Regions from separate parts of the Homo sapiens genome. Here region 1 is linked to region 2. The links come from fine-mapping of genetic effects on gene expression. A gene starts in region 2. The other region holds a variant in brackets. All regions are shown on one strand. Distances are from middle to middle. Region 1 has its middle 40 kb from the start of LINC01310. Region 2 holds the start of LINC01310 (long intergenic non-protein coding RNA 1310).

The links. PIP is the estimated chance that this variant, and not a neighbour inherited with it, causes the effect. A credible set is the group of variants that fine-mapping cannot tell apart.
Region 1: its variant is the best candidate, but not a certain one, in a credible set for the expression of LINC01310 in skin (TwinsUK, PIP 0.63).

Annotation. Positions count from the first base shown.
Region 1 is chr22:48,904,434-48,909,811 of GRCh38, reverse strand. No RefSeq gene overlaps it. Among named protein-coding and RNA genes, the nearest start is that of LINC01310, 40 kb to the right of the region's middle. The variant A/G (reference allele first, on the strand shown) is at 2,928.
Region 2 is chr22:48,863,924-48,869,301 of GRCh38, reverse strand. LINC01310 (long intergenic non-protein coding RNA 1310) reads right to left here and starts at 2,532. Exons shown (of 7, transcript NR_038944.1): 1 at 2,455-2,532. RefSeq lists enhancers at 1-9, 10-511.

The DNA of each region.
Region 1 (5,378 bases), 41 kb before region 2:
AAGAATAAATGAAAATTTAAAAATATTATTTACATTTGAAAACGTAACATGCTTCAGAATACATTTAAAGAGAGATATGCAAGACCTCTACAATCAAAATGACAACATTATTAACAGTGAAAGAAGACACAAATAAAAGGAAAATACATCATGTTCATATTGGAAGACTCGATGTTTATAAGATGTTAGTTCCCCCCAAATAGATTTATAGCTTAAAATCAATCTCAACAGAAGTCCAAGCAGAATCTCTTTGGAGGAATTTACAAGCAGATTCATAAAAAAATGGAAATGACTTAGAACAGCCAAAGCAAACTTTCAAAGAAAGACAGAAGTTGCAGGACTTCAGTACCTTAGTCCAGGCTTACTATAAATCACCAGGAATCGAGACAGCGCAGTGTCAGTGTGCAGAAAGAAAAGCCAACGGGCAGAATAAGATGTCCAGAAATGGATACAGAACTTCTTGGTCAATAGATGTGAAACAAAGATCCTGGTGAAATTCAGTGGGGAAGGGAGATGGTGCTGGAGCAGGTGAGTTATCATTAGAAATATCTTATGCCTGCCTCACACTATACACAAAAAGTAATTCAAGATTCATCACAGACTTATGCATAAGCAGCAAAACCATTAAACTTCTAGAAGAGAACATAGAAGAATAATTCATCATCTTGAGATAGGCATATGTTTCTTAGATGAGACGCAGAAAGCCTAACCACAGAAAACTGATAAAATTGGTCTTTATCATAATTAAAGCATCTGCTCGACAAAAGACACCTCTAAGAAAATGAAAAAGCAAGACATGGGAAGAAAATATTCACAGTGCACATATCTGACAAAGGACACAGATCCAAAATAGATAGGAAAAAAATAGCTCCTACAATTCCAGAAGAAGAAAACAGTCCAAACAAATTGACAAAAATGTATAGAAACACTTCACAAAAGAAAATACACAAATAGCCAAAAGGCACATGCCAAGTTGCTGGCGTCATTAATCACGGGGGGACACACACATGCCAGGTGTTTCCCACTAGGATGGTTGAAATTGAAAAGACTGGCAGCGTGCAGCGTGGGCAAAATTACCGAGGAGCTGGAACAGGCACCCCTGCGTGGTTCCTGGCGCAATCACTTTGGAAGATGTTTTGTTGTTTCTCACAGTGTAACACACGTCTCTACTTCATGATTCTCAAATTCTACTCCTAGGTGTGGGCGGAGGATTACCTAGGTGCCAAGGCAAGAGACTGAGGCACAAACTGTTTCAGTATAATAAAGAAAATAATTAGAATAAGAATAGTCATAATACAAATTAGATATAGAGATGACCATGAAGAATTATCAATCATTATAAACATTATTAATCATTAGCTTTTAATATTACTCTTTGTTGCATCACTAATATAACCTAGGAATAACCGGCGGGTATAGGGTCAGGTGCTGAAGGGACATTGTGAGAAGTGACCTAGAAGGCAAGAGGTGAGCCTTCTGTCACGCCCGCATAAGGGCCGCTTGAGGGCTCCTTGGTCAAGCAGTAACTCAGTGCCTGGGAAGCCACCCTTTACTTAGCAGACTGCGAAAGGCAGTCTCCTTTCTTTGAAGGAGTCAGGGAACACTCTGCTCCACCAGCTTCTTGTGGAAGGCTGGATATTATCCAGGCCTGCCCGCAGTCATCCGGAGGCCTAACCCCCTCCCCGTGGTGCTTCAATGGTCACGCTCCTTGTCCACTTTCATGCTCCTCCCGTACTCCTGGTTCCTCTTTGAAGTTCGTAGTAGATAGCAGTAGAAGAAATAGTGAAAGTCTTAAAGTCTTTGATCTTTCTTATAAGTGCATAGAAGAAAACGCTGACGTATGCTGCCTTCTCTCTCTGCTTCGGCTACCTAAAAAGGAAGGGCCCCCTATCCTGTAATCACGTGACTTGCTTCACCTTGTCAATCACTCAGAAGATTCACCCTTCTTACCCTGCCCCCTTGTCTTGTATGCAATAAATATCAACGCGCCCAGCCCTTTGGGGCCACTACCAGTCTCCGCGTCTTGATGGTAGTGGTCCCCCGGGGCCCAGCTGTTTTCTCTTTATCTCTTTGTCTTGTGTCTTTATTACAGTCTCTCGTCTCCGCACACGGGGAGAACACCCACTAAGCCCCGTAGGGCTGGACCCTACACCTAGGTATGTATTTGGATAAAATGAAAGCAGGTTCACAGAAACATCGGCATAAAAATATTCATAGCAGCTTTTTCATAAGAGTCTCAGACTGGAAACAATTTAAACACTCAACAGGTGACTTTGTTTTATAAACAAACTGTGGACTCTTCATCCACGGGAATATCACTCAGCAATACAAATCCAGCCACTTAGACCTGATCACACAGAGGCGTCTCAGAAGCATTACACCGAGTAAAAGCAGCTACTGAAATCAAGCACACACCCTAACCCTGTTCCATTTCTATAAAGTTTCTGGACAGGCGAGGCCAGTCAATGGAGATGGGCAGCAGGGCAATGGGTACCGCAGGAGGTGGCACAAGGAAGCTTTCAGGGAGGTGACATCTTCCTGATTTTGGTTGTGACGTGTGCTACTGAGGTTCAGTTGTGTCAAAACTCACTGGATTGGACTTTTAAGAACTGTGCTCGTCACTATGAGAAACGAGCCCTCAGTTACGTAACTAATACAACTAACTGAAAAATTATGCATTAATGCTAAAACTCGATTCCTACCAACCCTTAAAAACAGGGCAGTGACTCTGCCTACACCTCTTGGCTTAGGTGTAGCTGCTGTCACCACGGTGGATACCACCTGCGCCATCACCCAGGCCAGGGAAGTGGGCATTAGACAGACAGGGATAGCACTAGGAATAGGGTTAGGGATAGAGATGGAGGTAAGGATAGGAATGGGAGGGAGACAATGATGGAGCTAGAGAAAAGGACAGGAATAAGGATAGA[A/G]AGAGACAGCGACATAGAGATAGAGGTATGGGGAGGTAGATAAAGAGATAAATAGACACAGAGAAAACAGAGTATTTATCCTGAGAACTGGCTGATGTGATTATGCATGTTGCGAACTCCCACACTCCGGCCTCTGTCAACTGGAGCTTCTGGAAGCATAGATGATGTCTAAGCCTCCTGTGAGGTTTAGAGATAATCTATGTTCATGCGAGCACCTCCCACACAGTCAGCATCCCACCGACGGCTTTATGCGCTCATGTCCCCCCAGGCCCAGGGACACCTCCGAACCCAGTGTCCTCACACATCAGAGGCCCTGTAATCAGGGCACTGACACAAACGCACTTTCAGAGGGAAGGTAAATGTGAAGATAGGCTCTGCTTCCTCCTGCACTGAAAATTAGGGGCACTGGCCTTGCGGGGAAGGCTGGGGGAAGCAACACCGCACAGCTGCCATGCCTGCTCTCATCCCCGCAGCCTGCTGTCCCCAAATGTGCTCGATTTCAGAGCATAATGGGCAGAAGGTGTTTCATTTTCCAGAACCCAAGGAAAAAATGTAATATTGAAACAGCGCCGGGGACGGGGTTAAGAAAGAGATCCCTCTGCCGCCACGTGGTGCTGGGTTTGATTTCATTTCCATATGAACTTGTGTCCTTCTCCCAACCTTATTTCCTGCTAATCGGAGGAGCCAGCAGGACCACCCTAGCTTTGCTGGGTTGTGCCGTTACTTTTAATGGCAATATATTCCTATCAGCCAGAAGTCAACTGGAGTTGGGAGGGCACGTCAGGCAAGTGACAAGGGATGGGAGAAGCGTGGGCCCTTCCCCTGCAGGTGGATGACTCCCCAGAAATGCTATTTTCTATTTTCTTTGACATCATTGTCCCCATCAGCTTCCCCCTCACCCATGGAAATTGCCAGTCTCAGGGATGGGCAGCAGCTCTGGGGGCGGCTCTTTGCTTATTCTGCAGGGCCTCAGGGTCAGCAGAGGAGGCATGATTGTCTTTAGAACACCTTAATGGGGTGATGGGAAAGAGATACTGGGCCCAGGACCCTGCGCATCCACCAGTGGCTGCCTCGGAGAGAGGAGGCTGGTTCCAGCCACAGGAGCCCACCAGCGTGTGGTCCTGCCTGTTGCAGACCCGCCCAGGAGGCCAGGAGCAGGCTGGCCAGGAGACCACTGTTTGAGGAAAGACCACTGCGGGGGAAAAGGTGCAAGCAACGCCTTTTGTCATCCAAAAGAAATAAGAGTGATGCTTCTCCCAGGCTCACGTCAGGATGCCTGGCTGTGGTCCTCACAGGCGTGGACACCATGGGACACTCATCCTTGGGGGCCCCCGAGGGAGGAGACACAAGTCAGCATCAGGTTTGTGTGGATGACTGGGACCAGGAGTGGGAGGGACACCTGAACGGGGTGGGGACAGTGTCCACCCTGCAGTGTCTCCTGGCCAGGACCACCTACTCAAGGGGCAGAGTGGGGCTGCTTAGACAGGGCCTGGCACTGCCTGGATTCACCCTCATCACCCACCTCTCTTGGCTACCGGCCAGATACCCTGGCCAGACCCAGCTGGAGCGAGTGCACGGCGGGCATGCACCAGGGTGGGCTTCTCCTGTGCCCCACCAGGTGCCACGCCATGGGAGGTGCCCACATCAGGGGAACCGAGAAAGTGGGAGGGATGCAGGTCTCATGTGCCACACCATGGGAGATGCCCACATCAGGGGAACCGAGAGGGTGAGAGGGATGCGGGTCTCATGTGCCACACCATGGGAGATGCCCACATCAGGGGAACCGAGAGGGTGAGAGGGATGCGGGTCTCATGTGCCATGCCATGGGAGGTGCCCACATCAGGGGAACGGAGAGGGTGAGAGGGATGCGGGTCTCATGTGCCATGCCATGGGAGGTGCCCACATCAGGGGAACGGAGAGGGTGAGAGGGGTGCAGGTCTCACGTGCCACACCATGGGAGGTGCCCACATCAGAGGAACTGAGAGGGTGAGGAGGATGCGGGGACTCTGTGTGCAGCTTTTCCCACTAAATTGTCCCAAATCAAAAGTTTATTTAAAACACGGAATGTAAGGAAAGAAAGCAAAGACAGTGAAGACAGTGGGGCTTGGAGCGCCGCTGTGAGTGGGGACAGAGAACCTGGAGCTAAAGGGGGTGTGCGGGGCCACGGGAGGGGCTTTGTCTCACAGGGTGGGTGGTATTCACTTATGATTCACTTACGAGTTTTCCATCATGATGGGAGTGAGGCAACAGAGAGCAGAGAGAGAAAAACAAACTAAAACACCCCTTCGCCATCTTCACTCTTGTCTGGGAGAGGCAGTTCTATAGGCTGAAAAACCCCAGATCAGAGAACGGCGAAAATGCAGTGGAAGGCTTCATGACCTGCAGGGATGGATGCGGCCTTGGCCTCCCACGACTAAAGGCAGGAGGTCAGCAGAATCATCTTGTTTATTA
Region 2 (5,378 bases):
GCCATGGGCCCTTTGTGGGCCCGTGCATTGCATGCCTACAGGCCTGTACCCATCCCACAGCCAGGACGCCGGGCAGCTCCACGACCCAGAGTCCCTTTGTAACGTCAGCTGCACTGGAGGTAGATTGCCAGGTAAATTTCAGTACCTAAGTCCCATATGAATTTCAGGTCAACAACAAATAAATTTTGTTATAAGTTTAGCCCCAATATTGCCTAGGACATGCTTAGACTAAAAATAAGTGCCTTGTTTATCTATAATTCAAATGTAACTAATCCTCCTGTATTTTGACTTGCTGAACCCAGCAAACTGAATTTGAAGGGTGTTTCCTGAAACTATTTGAGTGCTCCTCAGCCACATTCGGTTTGGAACAAGGAGCCAAGGTCCAATTTCCAGGCAAAACCAAATGGTGCCCTTGCTCCCACCCAGGGACGGTGCCAGGAATATGCCAGCCATCCCTGGACCCGAGAGTCACCAGGCACGGGCCCTGCTTAGGGGTTGATCATCTCTGAAACCTTCCAGGAAGGACCACTTTGGAGATGTCATCTGACCTCCTTTCCTGGGAAGCTGCGGGCCTGAAGCCATCTTCCAGGATTTCTCTCTGTAGCTGTAGAGCTAACTAACACCAGGCCTCCGGGCCAGGAACTGGCAGAGGATTCTGAGGGCATTTTAGCCTCAGGCAAAGCCTCCCTGACCCCCCATCTGCAGGACTTGCAAATGGACACTGCTTCCAGCCCTCCTGATGAGGACACGATTATTCTTCTCCACTGGTGCCAAAGCAAAATAAAATTCCATTTGCTTTTCTGACACATTAAACAAGAACATTAGGAGTTCTGCAGGGGTGACCATATTTTAATATGCTTGGAAACCGTGGCAGGGGAGGTTCATTCCCTTGCCTGTTTGTACAGGAGAAACAGTGAAAGAAATCTGAGTCAACCAGGCTGCAGGGAGTAGAAGGCTGAGACTTTTTCTTTTTTTTTTTTTTAATACAAGGTGGTGCGTAAAAGTAATAAAGAGGTCACAGGGAAAATCTGTATCATGATGAATCCAGTTATTGCAAAAGAGCTGTTTCCTTCAATGTTCGAAAGCTGATAATACACGTGCACAGGCGTCTGCTTCTAATTTCAGGGAAGCTAAGCCCAGGAGCGACCGCTTTGGAGGCCATCTGCATGGAGCTGGCTGTCACCCCTGGTGCACGCGAGTGGTGGGGTCTGTACCCCGGAGGCCCTGCCCCACCAGGCAGGACGAAGGACAAAGCACTCCTTCCCTTCTCCAGCACACTCTGTCCTTTGCACCCCCTCAGGGTCGCACAGGTCATTCCTGCTTCCTGGAAAGACTCATCCCTTCAAACTGCTTTTTAAGCTCCTACTCAACCCTCAAGACCCATCTCACAGAGACCTTTAATTACCTAGGGTTGAGCTAGTCCTGCCTTCCCCTGCAGACGGCCCCATTATGTTCCAGGCAGCTTCATTCACAATTGTCTCCTCTTTGAATGTGGCTTCCCCAGGAGCAGGGACCAGTTTAATTTGAGTCCTGTCCCCCATGTGTACCGTACAGTAGGCAGAATGTGGTGCTGAAGTAATTAATGTCTCTAAATATTGAATCCTTCCCACAACCCCAGAGGAGATCCAATTCTGATGTCAGTGGAATAAAATGCAGTTCAAGTTCAACTTGAATTGATTCAGATGGTTTTCAGCACAGCCACCCACCGTTCCCAGGCCCCGGCCCCTTGGCTGGCCTCTTCCGCTCCAAACCGGTGGCTTCTTCCTCGGGGAAGGTGCTTCAGGCAGCAGGGGTGCCAGGACAGAGGCCTGGAAGATTCTGTACTACGCAGCATGGGGGCCACATTCTGTTGCTGGAAGGGAGTCACAGGCTTGTCCAGCTCAAGCGCAGGGTCAGTGAGAGTCTATCCTCACACTGTCAGAGCCAGCTGGGCAGCATGCCGGGGCAGCTGTCCTCCAGACGGGGACTCAGAAGCTTTGTGCTTTAACTTCATGACACCGGCATCCAAGCTCACAGCTCTGGGCCCCACAGTGGGCAGGGAATGGACCGCAGGGTTGAGCCTTTGATCACAGTGCTCGTGCTTCCCCCTGTGCCGTTGCAGGCCTCAGTTTCCCCAGCTCTTTTGCCTGCACACCTGGGTCCCACATCCCCAGCCTGAGACAGGATCTCCTTGTCACCGTGGCTCTGCCACGTCTGGAGGTTTCCTGACCGCGCTCAGGCACCTCTCTTGGAACCTGTTTCCGCATCAGCAAGGACAGGCGAGGCCAGGGAGGAGGAAGAAGCTAACTCTCGTTAAAAGAAAAACTTTACACAAATTAAATCTAACAGAGTTTAACTGAGCAAAGAATGGTTCGGGAATCAGTCAGCCTCCCGAACCAGAAGAGATTCAGGGAGATTCCGGCACTGCCGTGGGACCAAAGAAGATTTATGAACAGAAAAAGTAGGGTGACTTACGGAAGACAGAGCGCAGTCCAGAAGCAGCCACTTGGCTCCAGCTTAGGGTCTGTCTTACTTGATCAGGGAAAACTCGATGACTGGCACAAGAGTAGGTTACAGACTATTTACACGTCCAGTTTGGTACAGTTCACTGTGTACAGAAAGACTTTTTTTTTTTTTTTCAGAAAGAGTCTCGCTCTGTCACCCAGGCTGGAGTGCAGTGGCGTGATCTTGGCTCACTGCAAGCTCCGCCTCCTGGGTTCATGCCATTTAGGCTGAACTTATGTGAGGAGGCAGCTTTAGGCTAAGCTTATCACTCTGAATTCTCAGTGGCATGTCGGAGTTTGCAAGAAAGGTGGATTTCCCATTCATGCCAACTCCTCCAGCATGGCTACAGATCGCGGCTCATCAACAACTCACACGTTCCTCCCAGGTGTTAGGGCAGGACTCAGAACTGGAGGTCCGTGCACTGGCTCGTCTATGCTCCAGCCTAGAAATGTCCCCGAGGCATGGCCAGAGTCCTCCAGGCTGGGGAGCAGCGGAGGCCAGGCCATGCCAGATCTGTCGTCTGGGTTTAGCTTCGTTGCAGTGAGTGTTTACAGCTGAGTGGTGCTCTGGTGACCGTTGCTCTACAATGATCCCTCTGGCAGCTCCACGGAAAACAGCAATAGTTGTCCAATTCAGGAGTGAGTTTCCACATCCATCCCTGCTAAGGGAGTGCACAGTGATGGTGACTGAGAAGCTCCTCAGAGCACCAGTTCTGAAGTCACACACGTTGGGTTTGGGACTGGGATCCAACAACTCCTTGTTGTGGGACAGTGTGCAGTCCTTGTCTGGTGACCCCACTTCCCGGTCTGCAAAATGGGATCCTGAGACCTGCCCCTCTTAGGGCTGGGAGGACCCGACCAGCAAAGCCCACACGGCCTCAGGGCCAGGCAGGTCCCAGAGTAAAGGACGTGCCAGCGTAATTGTTGCCCTGGGTGTTGTTAGTGATATCACTGAGAGCTGATATTTTCCTTTCTCCACTGCCACCTCCACGAAGACAGCACACATTTGCTTAAGAAATAGCAGCTAGAGCTTGGGCTGAACTGTGAAACATAGCAAGTGTGCTATATCAATCAGAGAACACTTTTCCCTGGCACCAGTGATTTCTCGGAGAACTGTGAGCCCAGGCATCAGCTGTGATTCCATGAGTGATGGAGGGCCAAGAAGCAGAATGACACCAAGGGACCTTTTGTAAACACCCGCAGGAGCTCTCTGCATCCACGACAGGAAAATAAAGACACAAACTCTTCTCTGAAATTAGGGAAAAGGAAATAGAGAAAGTAGATGAATGCTTTAAGGAAATTTTTGAAGATAGAAAACTAAAAAACTATTAATTTAAAAATAAATGAAGTACACAAGCTCTAAATAATGGCATCTTTCCCCCAAACTGTCATAGAAGAAAAGCTAATGTGTTATTTTAAAGGATGACTCTCAGATGACCCTTTAAATTCCATTTATATTCTAGTGATTAAACAAAGCGATTTATTAGAGTTTTACAGAGGCATTTTCTCCCTGTGTCTTACAACGCAGACCACATCAAAAGCACCCATTTACTGCCATTATTTCAATACTGATTTTATTTTATGATCTTGATTTGTGATTTATAACTTTGTTTTTCTTGAGATTCCCGTCTTCATGTTGTTGGACCTGTGTGTAAAGCAGGAAGCAGCTCCCTCCCTTGGATGTACTAAAATAGTTACTGCTTCACATGCGTGATGCTCCTGGCTACCTTCCTGCCCCTGATACAAGCCATGCCGAGGTGGGGAGGGGTCCAGCCCACGCAAGCAGGGAGGGAAGCCTGTGGTCTCCCCATTGGCAGAGGAAAGGGGTGCGGACGCAGGCACCTGTCCCAAGAGGGAAGAAGGCAGATTCAGGATGGAATTAGCAAGACATGCTCCCCGACTGATTGTTACTTTCAAGAAAGCAGCCGGCCGCACTGCCAGCTTTGATAATTGACTTTATTCTACCATTGATGGATAAATTGACTGATAGATGTCAGACAGAGGCATGACCGAGGTGGGACCAGGTTTGTGCAGAAAGAATGATCGGCTCTACTGATTCAGTAAAATTCATAGTTTCAATAAGCCACAAACACACACCCCCCAAGCACTAAACACACAGGCACACACACGCATGCACACGTACATGGGTACACACACACACACACACACACACACACACACACACGATACTTTCAGGAAGAGCTGAGTTCATGATTCCAAAGCTGGAGGAGTGTCTCAGATGTTTCCTTCTGAGACCTTGGATGACTGGCGTGGGTGCCGGGGCATGGGGGCAGCTGCTGGCCCATCAGAGACAGGCCTGCCCATCAGGAACTTATATAGAAACCACAATGTGGCCAGGCTGGATGTGCTGTCTTTGCCTTAATCCCCAGCTTCATGTGCCCCAGATTCTACTGTGACCAGGACTGGCCTCTCATACAGCACTCAACCGAGCCCAGTGTCCCCAGCTGCGTCCAGGGTCGCCAAAGTCCCTGCTCTCCTCTGTGCAGGGAAACACTCAGGCCCCGCAGGTGCCAATCTCTTCAGGAATAGTCAGGAATAGCACAGGCATCTGCTCTGGAGCCTCAGCCTTGAGTGGTCCATGGAGAGGAGGCGGTGCTGGCCTGCACACCATTCCCTCCTGGAAGCCGATTGCTGGGAGGCTCCACCTCAGCCTGCTATCCAGATCCATGCTCCACCCAGCAGTCCCCATGTGCCTTAGAACAAGGTCAAGAGAGGTATTCATGCCCAGGCCATGGTGAAAACCCGTCTGCTTGTTCTCTTTAGTAATTTCAATTATTTTATTTTTTTGTGAAAATTACACATGTGCATTAGGAAATTTTTTTTTAGTACAGAAAGCAACATTATCACCCCAATCTCATCCCCCAACAGGAACTT